7 linked regions of the Homo sapiens genome follow. The protein of the gene in region 2 purifies or fractionates together with the protein of the main gene of each other region. This does not show direct contact. Each region holds a gene or a part of one and is shown on either strand. Other genes may lie near its edges.

The links.
Region 1: the proteins of BMP1 (region 2) and CSTF3 purify together in Homo sapiens (affinity purification with mass spectrometry; 2 studies listed by BioGRID and IntAct, with this or other methods). This does not show direct contact.
Region 3: the proteins of BMP1 (region 2) and NCAPG purify together in Homo sapiens (affinity purification with mass spectrometry; 2 studies listed by BioGRID and IntAct, with this or other methods). This does not show direct contact.
Region 4: the proteins of BMP1 (region 2) and POGLUT3 purify together in Homo sapiens (affinity purification with mass spectrometry; 2 studies listed by BioGRID and IntAct, with this or other methods). This does not show direct contact.
Region 5: the proteins of BMP1 (region 2) and KIF2C purify together in Homo sapiens (affinity purification with mass spectrometry; 2 studies listed by BioGRID and IntAct, with this or other methods). This does not show direct contact.
Region 6: the proteins of BMP1 (region 2) and GID4 purify together in Homo sapiens (affinity purification with mass spectrometry; 2 studies listed by BioGRID and IntAct, with this or other methods). This does not show direct contact.
Region 7: the proteins of BMP1 (region 2) and KIF5A purify together in Homo sapiens (affinity purification with mass spectrometry; 2 studies listed by BioGRID and IntAct, with this or other methods). This does not show direct contact.

The regions. Positions count from the first base shown.
Region 1 is NC_000011.10:33,084,084-33,086,282, reverse strand, and holds the end of CSTF3 (cleavage stimulation factor subunit 3), read left to right. Parts: intron 1-293; coding exon 294-388; intron 389-509; coding exon 510-570; intron 571-993; coding exon 994-1,196; 3' UTR 1,197-1,699; downstream 1,700-2,199. UniProt on the Homo sapiens protein: One of the multiple factors required for polyadenylation and 3'-end cleavage of mammalian pre-mRNAs.
Region 2 is NC_000008.11:22,203,372-22,206,871, forward strand, and holds part of BMP1 (bone morphogenetic protein 1 isoform 3 precursor), read left to right. Parts: intron 1-3,482; coding exon 3,483-3,500. UniProt on the Homo sapiens protein: Metalloprotease that plays key roles in regulating the formation of the extracellular matrix (ECM) via processing of various precursor proteins into mature functional enzymes or structural proteins.
Region 3 is NC_000004.12:17,834,979-17,838,478, forward strand, and holds part of NCAPG (condensin complex subunit 3), read left to right. Parts: intron 1-2,180; coding exon 2,181-2,362; intron 2,363-2,648; coding exon 2,649-2,823; intron 2,824-3,500. UniProt on the Homo sapiens protein: Regulatory subunit of the condensin complex, a complex required for conversion of interphase chromatin into mitotic-like condense chromosomes.
Region 4 is NC_000011.10:108,484,885-108,488,384, forward strand, and holds part of POGLUT3 (protein O-glucosyltransferase 3 isoform 1 precursor), read right to left. Parts: intron 1,557-3,500; coding exon 1,273-1,556; intron 1-1,272. UniProt on the Homo sapiens protein: Protein glucosyltransferase that catalyzes the transfer of glucose from UDP-glucose to a serine residue within the consensus sequence peptide C-X-N-T-X-G-S-F-X-C. Can also catalyze the transfer of xylose from UDP-xylose but less efficiently.
Region 5 is NC_000001.11:44,766,052-44,768,267, forward strand, and holds the end of KIF2C (kinesin-like protein KIF2C), read left to right. Parts: intron 1-774; coding exon 775-898; intron 899-1,045; coding exon 1,046-1,128; 3' UTR 1,129-1,716; downstream 1,717-2,216. UniProt on the Homo sapiens protein: In complex with KIF18B, constitutes the major microtubule plus-end depolymerizing activity in mitotic cells. Regulates the turnover of microtubules at the kinetochore and functions in chromosome segregation during mitosis.
Region 6 is NC_000017.11:18,052,908-18,056,407, reverse strand, and holds part of GID4 (glucose-induced degradation protein 4 homolog), read right to left. Parts: intron 2,282-3,500; coding exon 2,174-2,281; intron 1-2,173.
Region 7 is NC_000012.12:57,577,544-57,581,043, reverse strand, and holds part of KIF5A (kinesin heavy chain isoform 5A), read right to left. Parts: intron 3,332-3,500; coding exon 3,271-3,331; intron 3,036-3,270; coding exon 2,964-3,035; intron 2,807-2,963; coding exon 2,702-2,806; intron 89-2,701; coding exon 1-88. UniProt on the Homo sapiens protein: Microtubule-dependent motor required for slow axonal transport of neurofilament proteins (NFH, NFM and NFL). Can induce formation of neurite-like membrane protrusions in non-neuronal cells in a ZFYVE27-dependent manner.

The sequences.
Region 1 (2,199 bases), on a different chromosome or scaffold from region 2:
GATTGCTAAACAAATGACTTGTGTAACTCAGAAACACTCTTTGACAAAAACTGACTTTAGTTCAGTCCCTGGTTGTCTTACACAAAGTCACTTGTCTACTTCTCTGCCTCCCAGTGGCCACGGCATTGAGACTGCTGTCTCACCCACTTTGGTTTGGTAAAGCCCTAGAAGTATTTTCAGTGTCCAGAACAAAGCAGCAGACATGGAAGATCTTTATGTGCAAGTCACTTGATTTTAGCTCTGTGTAGAAATTCTTCCATTCCACTTGATTCATACTTTTCTTTTTCTCACAGCTCCAGGTTTACACCCTGTACCTGGTGGAGTGTTCCCAGTCCCTCCTGCAGCTGTTGTTTTAATGAAACTTCTCCCTCCTCCTATCTGTTTCCAGGTTTGTTCACTTATTTTCATGGTAGATACTGGCTCTGTGGGTCATAGTAATTGTGTATAAAGTTACTACTACTTTAACTTGTCAGATTACTGGGATTAAAATTTATTCATGTCAAAAATAGGGTCCTTTTGTACAAGTGGATGAACTGATGGAAATTTTCCGAAGATGCAAGATACCAAATAGTAAGTAACAGAAGCTCCATTTCAGAGTGTCATTCCACGTTGTTGTCTCATAGGCAGTAGAGATTATTATTCTCTGCCACTGAAGTTTTCGAAACCAGCCAGCCAATTTGAAGTGCAGTGAAACCCAGGAGTTACCCAAACCCTCTTTGGCAGAGAAAGGCTTATTCACATTGAATTCCACTAAGTAAAATGTCATAAAACTTTATCTTTTCTATTCATGTGAACATGCACTATCAGGCTTGGCTTATGAAAATTATTAGTTTTAACAGCAGCTTTTGTCTTTTTCTTTAATTATTTAGTATCAGTAGTACTATCCCATGTTTTGCTAAAATAGTAGGCTATGAAATAAAGTATCCACAGTTGAACATACATACCCTTTCATAGTGGAATATGTTTTTACGTTTTGTTGTTTTGTTTTAATAGCTGTTGAGGAAGCTGTGAGGATCATTACTGGTGGGGCCCCAGAGCTAGCTGTAGAAGGCAACGGCCCCGTGGAAAGTAATGCAGTACTCACCAAGGCCGTCAAAAGGCCCAACGAGGATTCAGATGAAGATGAAGAAAAGGGAGCCGTTGTCCCCCCTGTTCATGACATTTACAGAGCACGGCAGCAGAAGCGGATTCGGTAGGGTTTTAAACGCCTCTGCAGAAAACTCCTGTCCAGGATTCCTTTTGCCTCAAGTGGTATGTTTAAAAGAGACAACGCTTTGTTACAAGGTTCTTGGAAACAAAGTTGTATTGTCATTGGTGCCTCTATCACATGGTTCTTGAGAAAAAACAAACCAACCTGTGTGAATTTTAGAATACGGAACAGACCTATGCTCTAAGCAAAATTAGGTTTTCAAAAATGTGAGAACAGTACAAAGTGGCAGAACCACATTTTGTTCCCTCTTCAAGGGTGTCTTGTATGTGCCGCTTGAAGATTTGTGAGTTTTTCAACAGTTTTATTTTAAAAACTGGATGGCTTATGATTGTAAAGCATTTTATCACATTTTCTGAAAACAATTGTTCTTGGTTTGCTTATGTAGAGTCCTGCCTTATTGTTTGTTTTTATTTATGGCAGAATGTATGAAATCCGTTTTGTAGTTTCAAATTTTAAAAGTCCTTTAAAAAATAAAAGGATTCAGAAACATCATGCTTCCTCTGCTTCTTTCAGATTTTATTTACAATAACTACTTATGTTATTTATCCAATACCATTTAAAAATAAATGTCAGGACAAGGAAAAGTCATCTTGTATTTACTGAATGTATTAATCACATACTCTTTCCTGGTCTGTCTTTTTTGGTGCTAACTAAAAACATTTTTAAGAGGCAAATTAAACATTTTAGAAATCCTCAAATATGAATGCATTTGCTCCCCAGTAAATCTGAGGCAGATTAAGATCCTGTTAATACTTTTGTCTCTCTTGAAAGCAACCTAAGTGTGGAAATTCCTTTAACCACCTGCTGTCTTGTTCTCACATAGAGTATCTCTTATCTAAAATACTTGGGACCAGAAGTGTTCAGGATTTTGGATTTGTTCAGATTTCAGAATATTTGCATCATACTTACCAGTTCACCATCCCTAATACAAGAGTACAAATTCCACAAAACTCCACTAAGCATTTTCTTTGTGCATCATGTTGGCACCG
Region 2 (3,500 bases):
GTGATGAAAACCCGTCTCTACTAGAAATACAAAAAATTAGCCAGGCGTGGTGGGACGCACCTGTAATCCCAGCTACTCAGGAGGTTGAGGCAGGAGAATTGCTTGAACCTGGAAGGCGGAGGTTGCAGTGAGCCGAGATCATGCCATTGCACTCCAGCCTGGGCAACAGAGCAAGACTCCGTTTCAAAAAATAAAAAATAATAAAAATGATACCTACCTTGCAGGGTACTAAGCTTTATAGACATGGCTCTGAGCCATTAGCACCATGCTTGGCAAGTGACTCTTCCCACCCTGGTTAGGTTGACAACCCAGGTTTAAACAGATGAGCTGCTCACAAGCAGAAACAGAACCGAAGCCCTCAACAGTGAACCAGTGGACAGTCGAGGGCTTCCAACCCTGTGACCTCAGGCTTCCCAAATACACAGTTCCTGAGTCATGGAACTAGCTAGAGGGGACCTTATACTGATATTGTCTAAACTGCATTCTGTCTCTGTACTCCCCTGTGTAAAAAGATGGTTTGATAAAGAACAGAATCCACAAGATAGCCAGGACAGGGGTGAAGCTCCTGGAGAAGATGGCCTGTTTACCTTTCCATCTGCTGATTCACCTTAGAAGCATGTGTGGTTTCTTACTCAGGTGATAGGTTAATTACAGATCTGTAAGCATTTCCTGATTCCTATGGAGGACCCAGCACTATGCAAAGATCTGTAGGGGATTCAAGACAGGAACCCCTCTGTTCCCACGGAGATTGCAGCCTAGCTGGGGAGAGACATGGGCGTGCAAGGAACACAGGGGGCGTGGAAGGCCAGAGCGCAAAGAGGGAGGGCAGGGGGCTGTGTGAACCCACCGATGGGTAATGGTGACAGCTCACGGTTCAAGTGTGGGTAGACGGGAGCTTCACCTGCCTCTACCAGGGACTTGAGAGGGCCCTGTTTTCCGGGCCCTCGTGCTGTATCTTGCCCATCCTTCTCCCCACCAGTCATAGTGCCTGGCCGCCTGTTTCCCCCAGTGAAAGCTGTCCAATAATGTCATCATGAATAATGATCATCAGCTTGTAAATCTGAGTCGGGGCAGGGCGTGGTGGCTCATGCCTGTAATCCCAGCACTTTGGGAAGCTGATGGGGGCAGATTGCCTGAGCTCAGGAGCTCAAGACCAGCCTGGGCAACATGGCAACACCCGTCTCCACTAAAAATACAAAAAATTAGCCAGGCGTGGTGGCGCAAGCCTATAGTCCCAACTGCTTGGGAGGCTGAGGCACAAGAATCGCTTGAACCTGGGAGGCAGAGGTTGCAGTGAGCCAGGATCGCGCCACTTCACTCCAGCCTGGGCAACAGAGCAAGACCCTGTCCCCCCCCACCCCGCCCGCCCCCGCAAAAAGAAATTGAGTTGGGGAAGCCATGCTTTTCAGAGGCAGAAGTCAGATTGCCGTGGATTGAGGAGACCTGCCGTGAGAGTGTGGCCATAGCGAGTGTTCTCGAAGGCTAGCTGGAAACAAAAGGAGAGCGATGGGCTGTAGCTGGAGGGGCCTGGGAGAGCTCTTTCAGGATGTGTGAAGGTTCCGAGGCTGCAGAGCTGAGTGAGAGCGTGAGGCTGGATCATTTGTGGTGTGAGGGTTCCCACGCGTGGGCAGCAATGAGCTGCACCTCCCAGAAGGGCAGTCCATCCTGACGGGGAGGAGGGACACTTGCTCTGAGGCTTCAGGGCAGCAGGGTAGCAGGGTAGGTGGGTTTGCAGGTCGGAGTCCAGAGGTTGAAGCCATTCATGGTGGAAGGCCCTGGCTTTGTCAGGAGGTAGGAGAGAGGTGGTCTGCCACTGGGAGCTGACACAGTGGCTTGAGGAGGGGGCTGGATGTTTGCAGCAGTTACTAAGGAGGTGAGAGATGGAGCTGGTAAAGGCCAATCCAAAGAGTATCAAGTGGTCTGGGGGCCCAGGTGAGGCTGGAGCCACAGGTGGAGTTTTCTAAGATAGTGCTGTGCAGAGCCGGGGATGCAGGGCCACGCAGGGTGCAGAGGAGCAGGCTGGGTGGTCAGCCCTGCAGTCAGTTAAGTCAATCGAGGAGGAAATAGTGGGAGAGAATAGAAAGATCAAGACCCTGGAGGTCTCTCTAAAATTAAGAGGCCAGCCAGGCACAGTGGCTCATGCCTGTGACCCTAGCACTTTGGGAAGCTGAGGCAGGAGGATCGCTTGAATCCAGGAGTTTGACATCAGCCTGGGCAACATAGTGAGACCCCATCTCTACAACAAGCAAAAATGAAAAAAATTACCCAGGTGGCATGCCTGTAGTCCCAGCTACTTGGGAGGCTGAGGCGGGAGGATCAATTGAGCCTAGGAGCTCAAGGCTATGGTGAGCTATGATCGCACTACTGTACTCCAGCCTGGGTAGCAAAGTGAGGACCCATTTTTGTTTTTGTTTTTTAATTTTAATAAAGCCAAATGACCATGATCAGGAAGGTGAGGTCCTGAGCACCCCGAAGGAACAGGAGGTGGCCACAGAGGGGTGATGTGTTTGTGATGTGAAGAAACAGTGGATGATGACAAAGCCCTCAAGGAACCGAGAGGCCGTCTTGGGTGGACCGTTATATGTCTGTTGACTTCACCTGGGAGGGTAGCAGGAGTGGGGGTGGGGAGAACTGAGTCAGGTGTCAAAGTCCCCTGTGACTGTCCAGGCTGCTGGAGATCAGTGGATGACAGCTTCAAGGAGGGGCACAGGTCAGCCGGGTGCAGTGGCTCACGCCTGTAATCCCAGCACTTTGGAAGGCCTAGGCAGGTGGATCACTTGGGGCCAGGAGTTCGAGACCAGCCTGGCCAACATGGTGAAACTCTGTCTCTACTAAAAATACAAAAATTAGCCAGGCATAGTGGCTCACGCCTGTAATCCCAGCACTTTGGGAGGCCAAGGTGGGTAGATCTCCTGAGGTCGGGAGTTTGAGACTAGCCTGGCCAACATGGCGAAACCCCGTCTCTACTAAAAATACAAAAATTAGCCAGAGATGGTGGCGCACGTCTGTAATCCAAGATACTGAGGAGGCTAAGGCAGGAGAATCACTTAAACCTGGGAGGTGGAGGTTGCAGTGAGCCGAGATCACACCACTGCACTCCAGCCTGGGCAACAGAGCGAGACTCCATCTCAAAAAAAAAAAAAAGAAAGAAAGAAAAGAAAAATGGAGAGGCACAGGTGATATGACCCCTGTGGCCCAACACCTACAAAGGTCTGGGGGTTGTCCAGGGAGCCTGCGATGGCTGCTTCATGAGTGCTGCCATGTGAGGCCTCACTCAAGGCTTTTGTAGGAATCGGGCAGCTAGATTTTCCCCAGACGCAGTAACCTCATGAAAAAGAAACGATGCCTGCCTGCCATCCAGTTCATAAGTGGGACAAGAGATGGAAGAAAGGAGGGGGGGCAGGAGGGAAGGGCCTTCCCCACAGGAGGCATCGGAGCTTGGGGTCCCTCTCTATCCCCTTCCGTCACTCGCTTCCCTGCAGCCGGCTGTGACCACAAGG
Region 3 (3,500 bases), on a different chromosome or scaffold from region 2:
TATGTTGTATTTGTGATATAGAGACTCTAAGATTTATCCCCAAGACTTTTAAGAAATAGTTTAGAATAATTTTATATTGGGTGGGTAGAAGATGTAAGATAGGGTATGGGATTGGATCTCTTTTAAGTACTCTTGAACTACTATTTTTGTAGCACACATGTAAACCAACTGATTAAAAATTTTTTATACTGATTGTAGTTTTTCATTGAGTTAGAAGTGATATAACAAAACTTAATTTTATTTTTTTGAGATAGGGTCTTGCTCTGTCATCAGGCTGGAGTGCAGTGGCGTGATCATAGTCCACTGACCCCTCACCTGCTGGGTTCAAGCAATCCTCCTGAATAGCTGGAATGACAGGCATGTGCCACCATGCCCGCTGATTTTTAAATTTTTTGTAGAGACAGGGTCTCGCTCTGTTGCCCAGGCTGGTCTTGAACTCCTGGCCTCAAGTGATCCTCCTGCCTCAGCCTCCCAGAGTGCTGGGATTACAAGTGTGAGCCCTCGTGCCTGGCCCAAACTAATACTGTTAATGTGAACAATTCATTGGCATTTAGTACATTCAAAATGAAAGGCAACTACCACCTTTATCATCTAATTTAAAACATTGTCATCATCCCAAAAGGAAACTACTCATTAAGCAGTTGCTCCTCATTCCCCCTTCTGCCAGCCCTGACAGCAACCAATCCGCAGTCTGTTTCTATGGATTTAACTGTTCTGGATATTTTGTGTAAGTGGAATCATACAGTATGTGACCTCTGTTTAGCTTTTTAAATTTAGCATAACATTTTCGAGATTCATCCACATGGTATCTTGTATCAGTACTCCGTTCCTTTTTGTAGCCGAATACTCCATTTTATGTATATATGGTGATTTGTTTATGCATTCATCCATTGAAGGACAGTTGGGCTGTTTCTACCTTTTGGCTATTGTGAATAGTGCTGCTTACTATGAACATGGCATGTATATGTATTTGTTTGAGTAGCTGTTTCAATTCTTTTGGGTATCTGTATACCTAGGAATTGTGTTGCTCAGTCATTTAACTTTTTGGGAACTTGACAAACTGTTTTCCACAGTGATTGAACCATTTTAAATTTCCATCTTCAGTGTAGAAGGTTTTCCATTTCTCCACATCCTTATTGACACTTAGGTTCCATTTTTTAAAACATTATAGCTATCCTAGTATATATGAAGTGCTACTTCATTGTGGTTTTGATTTGCATTTCCTTAATGACTAGTGATGTTGAGTATCTTTTCATCTGCTTCTTGGCCATTTGTATATTTTGTTTGGATAAATGTCTGTTCAAGTCCTTTGCCCATTTTTAAGTTGGGTTGGTTGTCTTTATAGAGTTCTTTATATAGTTTGGGTAGTAGATCCTTATCAGGTATAATTTGTAACTTTTATTTTACAGGTTGTCTTTTTACTTTCTTGTTAATATACTTAGATGTATTAAACATTTTTAATTTTGGAGATACACTCATTTTTTTCTTTTGTTGCTTCTGCTTTTGGTGTCCTATCTAAGAATCCAGTGCTAAGTCTAAGTCATGAAGATTTATCCCTGTTTTCTTCTGAGAGTTTTCTGGCTTTAGCTTTTATATTTAGGCTGTTGATGCATTTTCAGTTAATATTTGTATATGGTCTAAGGTCCAGCTTCATTGTTTTGCCTGTGTACATCCAGTTGTCTTTTCCTTTGTCTTCTCTAGACTTTTGTTTACTTTTTCTAGGAATGCCTTCTGCTTCAACACCTTCTGTTCACATTCTATCCATTATTCAGACAAATTGCACTCCTACATATGGAGCTTTTGCTTATAGATAGGCACCTTCCTCTAATACCAGGGGCCAGGGTTTTCTATGTCTTAGAAACCCTAAGCATTTAAATATATGTTTTGCTCTTTTTTTCCAACAGTTATAAAAGGCCTTTTGGTTCTTCTAAAAAGTTTTAAGATAATTGAATTTTTCATGGCTAGACTAAGCATTTGTCTAGTCTCCTAGTCTTTTAGATTTGTCTAAAATTGTTATTCTAGCTTTGAAGAAACAGTCTTTTTATTTGCCTTTAAAGAATTTGTAATAACTCGAATGGTTTTTGGATGGTTCGTGTAAAAATACTGTAGGACAGGCTACATTGAGAGGCTTAAAAAGGAGATACAAATAAATTTCTTCTAATGAATGTCATCTTTGTTAGGTATCTGAACTTAGGACTGGAGCTGCAGAAGGACTAGCCAAGCTGATGTTCTCTGGGCTTTTGGTCAGCAGCAGGATTCTTTCTCGTCTTATTTTGTTATGGTACAATCCTGTGACTGAAGAGGATGTTCAACTTCGACATTGCCTAGGCGTGTTCTTCCCCGTGTTTGCTTATGCAAGCAGGTATTGAGTCATACTGATAAATCAAAAATCTGACTTGACATCAAATTCAAGTCCCCCATGAATTATATCTATAATGATATTTTGTTGTTGATACTTTTTCTGTCTTTAGTAGATAAATGATGAAATGACAAGAACGATACAGATTTTATCTATCTGAATTTTTGGCTCTTTCCTAGATGAAAATGCACTTAATGAGTGAATTTCCTACATAGTAGTTTTGAATTTCATACTTTTTCTCTCATCAAATAATGTTCTGCCAACATACTTTGAATTTGTTTCTCAATAGGACTAATCAGGAATGCTTTGAAGAAGCTTTTCTTCCAACCCTGCAAACACTGGCCAATGCCCCTGCATCTTCTCCTTTAGCTGAAATTGATATCACAAATGTTGCTGAGTTACTTGTAGATTTGACAAGACCAAGTGGATTAAATCCTCAGGCCAAGACTTCCCAAGATTATCAGGTGAGTGACTGTGGTAACTGCATGCAGATCACTGTTTTGGTAAAATAATCTCTCTCAAAGATCCCTTGAAATACTGAGGAACTGCATTTTGGTCTTTAGACTTCTGTCTCAAGCATATACCACAAAGCACGAAAGAAACATGACCTTGGGAAATGTGGAGAAATCATATGAAAACAGAAGTAATCAATGCTAACATTTTTGCTACTGAAAAGAAATTACTAAAAATCCACCACCCACACCATGCCCACCTAGTACTGACTGTTAATCTGAAGTAATAACCTATGTTATCTAGGACTCACAGAGTCTTCAAATGTTGGCTTACCTGCTATGCTTCTGGCACAAGAAAGGAGAATTCAAAGACTAGAACTCACCTCAAGCTTTTTTGGCTTTTAATTCAAAGAAGATAAATCAATTGCACACTGACTCACAGACTGAACTTAAGCTGGGTTGTTTTAATCCTTTAATGGCATTTGGTCAAACTTGTTACCATTTTTGAAATTTAATGTATTAGTGATTTCAGATGCTAACAGATTAAGTTGAAAGTATTACTCTATTTTATTTGATATTTAGTGATAAGCTACTCTGTTCAATTCATATGTTGTATATTATTGGAAAGATAAGATTACAAAGGATATTAGGCAAAATTAGGTAAGGGTCAGTAATAGAGCTATTAAGCA
Region 4 (3,500 bases), on a different chromosome or scaffold from region 2:
TGCTCTGCTTAAGAGGAATTTAGAGTTCTGCAAATGTGGAAAGAGAGGCTGAATAGTGAGATAAGGGGGCGCTATTGGGGGATGTGGGGAGCCTGAAAAACAGAGGGCCTAACCACATTAGTGAGAGGCTAAGAACTTAAGGTCAAGGACAGCCCTGAGAAATTCCCAGAGGCAAGTATGACTGAGAGTCTGATTAGTGCAGAGATGTCTATTTTTAAATATCAGGGTTTTTGTTTGTTTGTTTTTTAGTATGCACTGGTGAAAAAAAAAACAACCTGTTTCTGGTAGCCCAAGCTTTGACAAAATGTCCCATGCACGCTATCTTCTAGGTATGCTTAGGGTAAAACAAGGAAAATGTGTTCTAAGTTCAAGTCATTTTGAGGTGAAGAGAAGAAAACAGCTGCAGAAGGTGAAATCTAAGCAGGAGTAGTATTCAGCGGAACAGAGAACTTAAAGCGGCCTCTTGACATGGTTGTGCATGCCTATAGTCCCAGCTAGGATCAAGGCTGAGGCAGGAGGATGGCTTGAGCCCAAGAATTTGAGACCAGCCTGCTCAACACAGCAAGACCCCATCCCTATTTAAAAATAAATAAATAAATGAGACTGTTCTGTTTGGATATTGTAAATATAGACTATTTGAAAAAAAGAATAAGAAGTAACCTTGTTATAAATCTCTGGAAGCTCAAAGAAAGCTTGGGAGTGTCCTGTATGGCATACCTACCTGGGATGGGGGCTCAGCCACTTTATTCTATTTTATTTATTTATTTATTTATTTATTTATTTATTTATTTGAGATGGAGTCTCACTCTGTCACCCAGGTTGGAGTGCAGTGGCGCAATCTTGGCCCACTGCAGCCTCCACCTCCTGGGTTCAAGGGATTCTCCTACCTCAGCCTCCTGAGTAGCTGTGATTACAGGCGCCCACCACCACGCCCAGCTAATTTTTGTATTTTTAGTAGAGATGGGGTTTTGCCATGTTGGCCAGGCTGGCCTTGAACTGCTGACCTCAGATGATCCACCCGCCTCAGCCTCCCAAAGTGCTGTGATTGCAGGTATGAGCCACCATGCCTGGCCTCAAGCCACTTAATTTTAAATCTTACAGGAAAGTAAGATCCACAAAGATGGAGAACATGATGAACACTCAGGTTGCAAATATCTTAGATGCCCATTTCTCAGCCTGAAATCTGTTTCATCCTTTGTCATTATAATTCTAAACATTTAAATGTTATACCTAAATAATTAAACTGTATTATCAATTCATTCATTCTCCTACCTTTCTTGTCAATGATAACAAAATCTCATCAGAGAACATCTTGAAGTCTGTGTATTTCCCTAAAGATCTCCGGTAAACATGGTTATTGAGAATCGTGTAATGAACAATGGCACCTCTCTCATCCCCAAACCTTTTGGGGACTTCTTTTAGCATTTGCTGGAGATTGATGCTGGGAAAGGAAGCAAAATCTTTTGCAATCTGTGGTTCCTTGGTTGGACAAGAAAGAGTCTTCTGCCAGGCCTGAGGATCTTCCGGACACTCACAGTACTCATGGTACACTGGTCCTAGGGAAGGAAAACATGAAAAAGGCCGCACTCCATTAGCAAGCACCACAACACAGGGAGTCACTTCTGTCTCTGCTTCTTGGTGAATTCTAAGATTATCCAGAGATAATCTGCCCTAGACAAATCAGTGGTGTAAGTGATTATGTTAGAGTCCTACACTTTTACTTTCCTTTTCACACCACCTTGGATAAACAGTTTAGTATATGCCCTCTCCCAATCTAACCTACTCTCGGTCACTTAGCTCATAAATTCATCTCTAATAAGGTATAAATGGCTGGCAAACATGAAACAACTTACCTTTTAGCAAGGAGAAAAAGAACGTATTAATTTTTAGACATTATGTAAACCAAAAATAAAATTCTAAGCCTCCTAGACCGTCCAAATGGATCCCTCCTTTTGGCCAAGGGCATTCCAAAGTTAATCTGAAAAACTAGTTCGGCCACGAAGGGAAAGGGGAACCAGGCATGCCTCATTATACCCTCCTCCCTTTTGGAATTCAGGCCTAGCTGACCAGCATTAACATCAACACAAACTTTGTTGAACTGACTCTTTAAGTCTGATAAGAAACATTTGCAATCTCCTCTGTCGCCTGCTACCTGGAAGCCTCATCTGCATGATAAAATCTTGGTTTCCACAAACCCTTATCATAAGCCCAGACATTCCTTTCTATTGATTCTAAGTCTTTACACAATAACTTAATTCTTTCAACCAACTGCCAATCAGAAAACCTCTGAATCTACCTATGACCTGGAAGCTACCCCCAACCCCTCCCAACCACCCCCACCCCTTCCAGTTGTCCCTCCTTTCCAAACCAAACCAATGTACATCTTAAATGTATTGATTAATGTCTTATGTCTTACTAAAATGTATAAAACCAAGTTGTAGCCTGATCACCTTGAGCACAGGTTCTCAGGATGTCCTGAGGGTTGTGTCATGGGCCATTGGTCATTGAGTCTGAGAGATGGGGGAACAATAAGGTAAGCCCTACAATTCCTACAGCTTACTGCTTAAGGGAGCTTCGAGGCTGTAGTGCAGGGAGGGAAACTGTAGGCAAAAACAGGTAGTCTCACTGAATTGAATATTTGGCTCAGAATAAAGCTCTTCAAATATTTTAGAGTTGGACTCTCTTCTTTTTTCTTTCTTTCTTTTATTTTTGTTTTTTGGTGGCAGGGGGACAGAGTCTCACACTGGCTGAGACTCTGGCAGAGTCGCCCAGGCTGGAGTGTAGTGGCGTGATCTCGGCTCACTGCAACCTCCTCCTCCCATGCTCAAGTGATTCTCCTGCCTCAGCCTCCCGAGTAACTGGGATTACAGGTGTGCACCACCATGTTTGGCTAATTTTTGTATTTTTAGTAGAGACGGGGTTTCACCATGTTGGCCAGGCTGGTCTCAAACTTCTGACCTCAGGTGATCCACCTGCCTCGGCCTCCCAAAGTGCTGGGATTACAGGCGTGAGCCACCATGCCTGGCCATAAGTTTGACTCTTTTCATTGACAACAAGTAACAGGGACTGATGTACCACCCCACCTGAAACAACCAGAAAACACTCCCACAAAACATATGAAACAATAGTTTTTTGTTGTTTTTGTTGTTGTTTTTTTGAGATGGAGTCTCACTGTGTTGCCTAGGCTGGAGTGCAGTGGTGTGATCTCAGCTCACTGCAACCTCCGCCTCCTGGGTTCAAGTGATTCTCCTGCCTCAGCCTCCTGAATAGCTAGGATTACAGGCACTCACCACCACGCCCAACTAATTTTTTGTATTTTTAGTAGAGACGGAGTTTTGCCATATTGGCCAGGTTGGTCTCGAACTCCTGACCTCAAGTGATCCACCTGCTTCGGTCTCCCAAAGTGCTGGGATTACAGGCGTGAGTCACCGCACCTGGCCTTAAACAATAGTTTTTAAGGCACTAGGTATTAGGCAATGAAGGACAGTGAGTCTGAGAGA
Region 5 (2,216 bases), on a different chromosome or scaffold from region 2:
AAGAAAAAATAAATAAATAAATAAATTAGCTGGCTATGGTGGTGTGTGCCTGTAGTCCCAGCTACTCGGGAGGCTGAGACAGGAGAATCACTTAAACCTGGGAGGCGGAGGTTGCAGTGAGCCAGGATCGCACACCACTTCACTCCAGCCTGGGTGACAGAGTGAGACTCCATCTCAAAAAACAATAAAAATAAAATCACTCAAATTTCTAGCTTGGGCATCAGGACCAATGATGTTATTCATTTGACATAAGAGATGGGGATAAGCTTGGGATAGGAGGCCGGAAGTGGTGGCTCAAGCCTGTAATCCCAGCACTTTGAGAGGCCGAGGCCTGCGGATCACCTGAGGTCGAGAGTTCGAGATCAGCCTGGCCAACATGGAGAAACCCCGTCTCTACTAAAAATACAAAATTAGCTGGGCGTGGTAGCACTTGCCTGTAATCCCAGCTACTTGGGAGGCTGAAGCAGGAGAATCCCTTAAACTCGGGGGGTGGAGGCTATGGTGAGCCGAGATCACGCCATTGCACTCCAGCCTGGGCAACAAGAGTGAAACTGTCTCAAAAAAGAAACAAAGAAAACGAAAAAAACAAGCTTGGGGTAGGAAGAGGGTGAATTCAAGCTAAGGATTTCCTTGGGGAGAGGGTGAACAGCCAGGGTATGGGTCAGGGACCAGAGGTAAAGCATCTTACTCAGGTGTCTGCATTGCAGTTGGTAGGACCCCAGGAATGATTTGCTAAATGGTTATTGAACTGACAAGGTCCTCCCTGTGTTGTAGCAAGGACCAGACTGGCTTGAGCTCTCTGAGATGACCGAGCAGCCAGACTATGACCTGGAGACCTTTGTGAACAAAGCGGAATCTGCTCTGGCCCAGCAAGCCAAGCATTTCTCAGCCCTGCGAGGTGGGTGTGGCTGGATGGGGTGCAGGTGGACGATGGTGGCCTCTGCTGGCTCTTGGGCAGCTGCAGGTGATGGCAGCTCTGCCCTGAGTGAATGGGGGCTCCTCAGACTCTCACTAACCCCATATGTACCGCTACCCTTTCTTCCAGATGTCATCAAGGCCTTGCGCCTGGCCATGCAGCTGGAAGAGCAGGCTAGCAGACAAATAAGCAGCAAGAAACGGCCCCAGTGACGACTGCAAATAAAAATCTGTTTGGTTTGACACCCAGCCTCTTCCCTGGCCCTCCCCAGAGAACTTTGGGTACCTGGTGGGTCTAGGCAGGGTCTGAGCTGGGACAGGTTCTGGTAAATGCCAAGTATGGGGGCATCTGGGCCCAGGGCAGCTGGGGAGGGGGTCAGAGTGACATGGGACACTCCTTTTCTGTTCCTCAGTTGTCGCCCTCACGAGAGGAAGGAGCTCTTAGTTACCCTTTTGTGTTGCCCTTCTTTCCATCAAGGGGAATGTTCTCAGCATAGAGCTTTCTCCGCAGCATCCTGCCTGCGTGGACTGGCTGCTAATGGAGAGCTCCCTGGGGTTGTCCTGGCTCTGGGGAGAGAGACGGAGCCTTTAGTACAGCTATCTGCTGGCTCTAAACCTTCTACGCCTTTGGGCCGAGCACTGAATGTCTTGTACTTTAAAAAAATGTTTCTGAGACCTCTTTCTACTTTACTGTCTCCCTAGAGATCCTAGAGGATCCCTACTGTTTTCTGTTTTATGTGTTTATACATTGTATGTAACAATAAAGAGAAAAAATAAATCAGCTGTTTAAGTGTGTGGAAAGGGCCTGGGATGTGTCTGAGCCTTTTGGGACTAAGGACATGACTGTACCTTTGGCCTCTGGGTAGTACTGATTCTGTACTCCTTCCAGGAGGCCATATCCACACCTACAATTCCAATGACAAGCTGAAGACTCCTGTGACTTGTTTGATGTCTATGAGATGCTTACTAGGCCTGGGAACAGAAACTCTTAAGTAGAAGGAAGATGGCCGCCGGGCACGGTGGCCCACGCCTATAATCCCAGCACTTTGGAAGGCCAAGGCGGGCAGATCGCAAGGTCAGGAATTCAAGACCAGCCTGGCCAACATGGTGAAACCCCATCTCTACTAAAAATACAAAAATTAGCTGGGCATGGTACATGGTGGCACGCACCTATAGTTCTAGCTACTCAGGAGGCTGAGGCAGGAGAATTGCTTGAACCCGGGAGGCGGAGGCGGCAGTGAGCCGAGACTGTGCCACAGCACTCCAGCCTGGGAGACAGAGTAAGGCTGTCTCAAAAAAAA
Region 6 (3,500 bases), on a different chromosome or scaffold from region 2:
CCACCTGCTGGTGGCCAGCACCTTCATACACCACTTGGGCTCCCCCAACCTTCTGGATACTCAGGTCTTGTGCATTCTCTTGTATCACAGAGAGACACAAATGACTGTCTAGTTTTTAGTGTCCATTTGCTACAACAATCAAAATGTATAGAATTCAAAAAACGCTTTAAAAAGCTCAAGTTTAAATTTAAATTTAACTGAACCTCAGTATTTGATAGATCTCCTTTTTTTACTCAAGTAAAAAACAGCTTGGGGCTGGGCATGGTGGCTCACGCCTGTAATCCCAGCACTTTGGGAGGCCAAGGCAGGAGGATTACTTGAGGCCTGGAGTTCAAGACCAGCCTGGCCAACATGGCGAAACCTTGTCTCTACTAAAAATACAAAAATTAGCCAGGCACGGTGGTGCACGTCTGTAATCCCAGCTACTTGAGAGGCTGAGAGATGAGAATCACTTGAATCTGGGAGGCGGAGGTTGCAGTGAGCAGAGGTTGCAGTGAGCCGAGATTACGCCACTGCACTCCAGCCTGGGTGACAGACTGAGACTCTGTCTCAAAACCAAACCAAACAAAACAGAACAAAACAAAACAAAAACCCCCATAAAAGAAAAACCAAAAAAACAGGTTGGGTCAGTGGCTCACACCTATAATCCCAGCACTTTGGGAGGACAAGGCAAGAGGATCACTTAAGATCATGAGTTCAAGACCAGCCTGGGTAACATAGGGAGACTCTGTCTCTACAAAAATAAAAGAAAATGAGCTCAGTGTGGTGGCACGTGCCTGTAGTTCTAGCTACTTGGGGCGCGGAGGTGGGAGGATTACTTGAGCCCAGGAGGTTGAGGCTATAGTGAGCTATAATCATGCCACTGCACTCCAGCATAGACGACAGAGCAAGACCCCAACTCTAAAAAAAATTTTTTTTAAATAAAATAAACAAATAAAAAACATTAGTAAGCAAAGCAACTGATCTCTAGTGAGGTGAACTCAAGACAAGGGTCTGCGGGAGTTCTCTCCACAGACTGCTGTGCCAGAACCAGGGGAGAGTTTAGATAGCCAGGTGTGAGAGGCAATGGGAAGAACGAGTTCTAGAATCTTTGCTACTGACACAGCCATTTCTGGTTGGTTTATGGAGGGTAAACCCATTGAACTTCTTCAATGTTAAACAAAAATTCACCATCACCATGGTCAACTAAAGCAAAAGGCTATTAGGTTGAGAAAATGATTTTTTTTTTTTTTTTTTTGAGACGGAGTCTCACTCTGTTGCTCAGGCTGGAGCGCAGTGGCACAATCTCGGCTCACTGCAAGCTCCGCCTCCTGGGTTCACGCCATTCTCCTGCCTCAGCCTCCAGAGTAGCTGGGACTACGGGTGCCCACCACCACGCCCAGCTAATTTTTTGTATTTTTGGTAGAGACGAGGTTTCACCGTGTTAGCCAGGATGGTCTCAATCTCCTGACCTGGTGATCCGCCCGCCTCGGCCTCCCAAAGTGCTGGGATTACAGGCGCAAGCCAACGCGCCCAGCCGAGACACTGATTTTTGAAGACATGGTACTTATATGACAACAAATGAAAAGATCCCAGGACACTAACTGTCTTGAAGCATTCACTACTGCTGAGTGAGAATGCTCTACACTTGACAGTTAAAAAGGGGGGCAGCAGGATTTATAGTGGTGTACTTAAGACAAGACTATACTTGTCTGTCAGCAGCCAGGATAAAAAGAAATGATGTGGCTCTGCCCTGATAAGCCAGTGGGCAGGCAGATTCCCACAACATCATCTCCATCTCATGCCAGCCCCGAAGCCGGAGGTCATCATTGCATGTTTCACAGGGTTTTCCCCAAGCAGAGGTGATTTGAAAGGAACAGTGGACAGAAGATGGACAAACAGGTGGGAAGGATGGGGGGACACTGTTAAGATTCTGATAGCTGAGCAGAGTTCTGGCTGGAACTCTGGGGTTGCTATCATCAGACAACCATTTGCTATTTAAGCAGCAGGTCAGATCGTATTTAAACTGTCCTCATAAGGAAGATGGAACAACTGAGGTCTGTGTGCAGTGCAACCTTTTACTTGGTTGCAAAGCCCCAGTAATCCTCAATAAGGGACAAGGTCTCTGGCTCCCAGCATTTCTTCAATTCTCTAGCAGCCCCTAGATGACCCAGCACAGATCAGATTTACTCACCCAGTGTTTCCGATCAACATCTTCATCTGCATCCCACTTGCGAGTTAAGAAAGGGTGTTTTTTGCTGATTATTTCTCCTTCGAAGAAGGTTGTAAGGGTTGGATACTCCTATGGTAAAAACCCAAATATCAAAATAAGATGTTGAGTGAGAGTTTTTAACCTTTGTACAAAGGAAAAATAAACTTTGCTTTAACTTCTTTCCAGTACCTAGACACTGCTACCTGACAATCCAAACCAGAGTTAGATCGCAGCCAGTTTGCCAACAGGCTGTGGCAATGGACCTGAATCTAAATCACCCAGAGAATGAAGGGTTTCCTGGATTTTGCCAGCAGCAGACAGCCCTTCTTTGACTTCAATTGTTACATGCTAGTCTCTTAGAAAATAATTTGGATGTTTCCACAAATAAATTTTTAATATTCTAGCATACAAAGCAGATCATAACTTGGTAGATTTTACTTTCCAAGGTTAGACCCAAAGAGGCTCCAAAATCACTGTGTCTACCACTAAGGCTCCCTCAAGCCACTGGTTCTCCAACTGGCTCAGTCATTTGTCCCTTTTACACCAATTCTCCAAGGTTCCAGGGTGGATTCTGGGGTAGAATACTTTTTTATTTTTCCTGAGACAGAGTCTTGCTCTGTCGCCCAGGCTGGAGTGCAATGGCACAATTTCGGTTCACTGCAACCTCCTCCCACACCCTGGGTTTATGTGATTCTCCTACCTCAGCCTCCCGAGTAGTTGGGATTACAGTTGGCTGCCACCACGCCCACCTAATGTTTGTATTTTTAGTAGAGACGGGGTTTCGCCATGTTGGCCAGGCTGGTCTCGAACTCCTGACCTCAGGTGATCCACCCGCCTTGGCCTCCCAAAGTGCGAGGATTACAGGTGTGAGCCACCGCACCCAGCCTAAAATACCTTTTATTTTGGCCAGGCATGGTGGCTCACGCCTGTAATCCCAGCACTTTGGGAGGCCGAGGTGGGAGGATCACCTGAGGTCAGGAGTTCAAGACCAACCTGACCAACATGGAGAAACCTCATCTCTACTAAAAATACAAAATTAGCCGGGCGTGGTGGCGCATGCCTGTAATCCCACCTACTCGGGAGGCTGAGGCAGGAGATTGCTTGAACCTGGAGGCGGAGTTTGCAGTAAGCCGAGATCACGCCATTGCACTCCAGCCTGGGCAATAAGAGTGAAACTCTGTCTCAAAAAAAAAAAAAAAAAAAAAAAGTAAATACTTTTTTCAGTGTTCTACATGTTCAGAGAAACTTCTAGTAATGAACTATACAAATGGTCCCTGAAGGTAGTCTTAGAATACCTTGATACATAGGG
Region 7 (3,500 bases), on a different chromosome or scaffold from region 2:
CCAGGGCCTTAACTCTCTCAGCCGTAGCCCTAAGTCGTTTTTCCAATTTAGGAAGCTCACAACGCAGATCTGCATTGTCACGTACCAGCTATGGGGCAAGCCAAAGGGAAGAAGTGGAAAGGAAGGCAAGTGACCCAAGACGGTCACCCAGAGGAGCGTAGGGGACAGGGGTGAGGAGAGAGAATAAAGAAAAATCAGGAGTCAGAGAAGATGGAGACCATGTCATTTCCTCAAAAGGCCTCATTGCCTTTATGTAATGGACTGTTCTGTCCAGCTCATTCCTTCTCCCAGAGCGAAGGGTGGGTGGTCAGGCATTTAAAAGTTATATAATTTTCTAGGCAGTAAAACCTGCCATCTCCACTGCAGCCCAGAACTCTTGTGAGAGCGCCTTGTCCTGTCTCCATCTGGTTTCCCCCACATCTCCCAGCATGTGCCAGATCAATAGCCCCAGGGCGGCCATGGGGATGAGGGACCCGCTTCCCCAGAGAGGGCTTTGTGGGCATGCAAAGGGTGGGGCAGCAAGGGCACAGTAGCAGTTTGGTGGCTGTGGCATTGAGGAGAATCTGTGCATGGCAGGTGCAGTGCAGAGCAGGAGCAGAAGCTGGAATTCAGGAGCCCCTGACATACACATATAGACAGGCAGAGCCCGCCCCGTAGGAAGGAAAGAAAATGTTTGAGGTCTCACAAACATTTGCACTCATTACCTTCACATTCAAGGACTTCCTGGGTTATCCCTCCCCCAGTGAAATTAAGCTAGAGCATGGGAGCAACCACCCTGCAGCCCGAAAAGACTTCCTGATCTTTTTACAGGTTCCACACAATGACTGGGGGCACTATAGGTTGCAAAAGGAGCAGGGCCTTGGAAGACAGCGGGTAAATCAGCATAGCGGGGAACACTGGGGGCTCAAGGGGACAAGCTAGAAACCCTTCCATGCAGTTTCCATTTGGACAATTTATGGAGTATAAGCAATGTTTTGCTGTGACAATACTTTAGCTTAATTGATATAGGGCTATAGTCCTGGCTGTTAAGATTCTCTTAACTGAGAAGTTTTTATCTCCTTTTCCTTTTTACTCTTGTGTCTGCTGAGGTAGGAAATTGTAGTGAGTCCTCTATTTATCCTATAGGTGAGTCATTTTTGTTTTTTTGGGACTTTGAACAGAGGCAGAGGCTTCAGTGACGATAAAGGAAACAGTGTGTGGTTGTGTTTTTTCATGGAAATTTTTCTGGGGCTTGCTCCATAGAGCAGGGCTTTCCCATAGGCAGAGAGGCCCAGAGTAGCACACACATGTGTGTGTGTGTTCTAAGCAACATAATATGGATTTGGACAGAGAGGGAAAGTGAATGCGGGAATGAAAATCGAATGGCAGAATTGATTTCAAATGTTTCCTATCTGCCTTTCAACTTTTCTATAATTTTGTTACTCAGTTTCATAATAAAGGAAATAAAATCGTAGCAAAGCCCTCTGCAGGCCTAAATAAGATAAATAAACTCTGTACATTATCACTGGGCACAGGTTTAGGATTCATTAAGAAAAAAAAAAGTACTGAATATTTACTATATAAGCTGGGCATTATACTGGGAGGAAAAGAAGTTTAAGTGCTAGGCTAGTGAGAATGTAAGTTTAAATGGAATCTTAAGGTAGATTTGAAAGGAAAGGAATGAAGTATAGGTTAGGGTTTATTTTATGAATTAGTTAAAAGGACCAGTTGACAGCCTGCCGAGCCTGTCTTCAAGGCTCAGATATTTAGTGCTAGTGAGAGTGCCCCTACCCAGCATGCACCAAACATTTCCTGTCCTGACTCCTTTGGACTGCCCTTCTGCATCCCCAGCCCATACCTTTGAAACCCAGTCATCCACCTAAAGAACCGCAACAGCAAGGAGGGGGACAGAGAGGCAGCAACTTAATACACAGGAGTTTTGACTGGGGCCCCAACCAGGGGCTGGTTGGGCCATCTTAGGGACATCATTTTTTTTTAATTGAAACAGGGTCTCACTCTGTCACCTAGGCTGGAGTGCAGTGGCATGATCACAGCTCACTGCAGCCTCTACTTCCTGCGCTCAAGCAATTGCCCTACCTCAGCCTCCCAAGTAGCTGGGACTATGGGTGTGTGCCACCACATCCGGCTAATTTTTGTATTTTTTGTAGAGATGGGGTTTCGCCATGTTGCTTAGGCTGGTCTTGAACTCCTGTGCTCAAGTGATCCGCCCGCCTCGGCTTCCTGAAGCGCTGGGACTACAGGCATGCACCACTGTGCCTAGCCAGGGACATCATTTAATGTCCCTGCATGCCTGCCACAGACCTAGACAGATGGAGTTCTCTCCACGAAAGAAGCCCAACTCCCTTGCTTCTTCTCATCTCCCTGCCTTCCATCTCTGGGTAACGTCTGACCAGTCTCCCTCCTGTATAGTTACAGCCCATGCCTCTGTTAGTTTCAACCTCTCCCTCCAAGGTAGGCCTGGGGAATTCCACTTTGAGCAGAGGTGGGTTAGAAACTTTGAGAAGGGAATACAGGCATGAAACAAAGAACAAGGTACAAGTGGACCAAATATGGTATAAAGAAGGGATTAGTAGGGAAAGTAAAAGCGAACAGTAAGGAAAACATGCAACTAGATTTTCCTGAATCCAAGGGGCCTCTGAGGATTTGGTATGCTAGCTACCCGGCCTCAAAAATTCTCTTCACTCCTTCAGCAGACTCTTACCTGTTTGTGAACCTTTGTAAGCTGTTCCAGGTTGTTCTCAAGAAAGGAAATCTTCTGCTTTTGGGAGTGAATCCCCCCACTGTCTTCGGGCTCCATTTCTGCACTCTGAGAACAGATAGAAGGAAAGACGTGGCTGTCCTGAGGCCAAACAGGTCCCACCAAGACCAGGCCAAGCCAGCCCCATAGGGGCAACAGGGGCAGGAGAAACCTAAGGATAGGAGGAGGATGTGGGGGCTGACAAAACCCCAAGGACAGCACTCACTTTCTTGACTCGAGTCGTGACGTCTTGAACGAACAGCTTGCGAAGGTTGTGGAGGGTCTGGAGTTCCCGGGCCTGGAAAGAATGATGAAAAATTGGGAATAGCCAGATACCAGGTCTGTCCTATTCCTCCAGAATTATAGGTACCTCCAGTCTCTATAATCAAGTGAGTCACTTATCCTTTAGGAAAAAATGTGTCTTGATTACGCTACAGAATGGCTGCAAAAGGGCAGGAGGAATAGGGTTAGGAAGAAATGAAGCCTCCCCACTCCCCAGTCCTGTGAATTTGGCACAGAAGGGAACCACTCACAACTGTCTCCTCCAGACCCTTGAGGTCCTGCTTGGACTGCTCATGTCGCTCGTACAGAAATCTGTAGCAAGAGAAATAAGGGAAATGGAAAGATCCCTCAGGACTCTCCTTCCTCCTGCCTCTTCCTCTATTACTTTTATCTCCATTTAAGTATTACTATTATTGTTATTTTGTGAAACAGGGTCTCATTCTGTTACCTAGGCTAGATAGAGTACAGTGGCACAATCAGG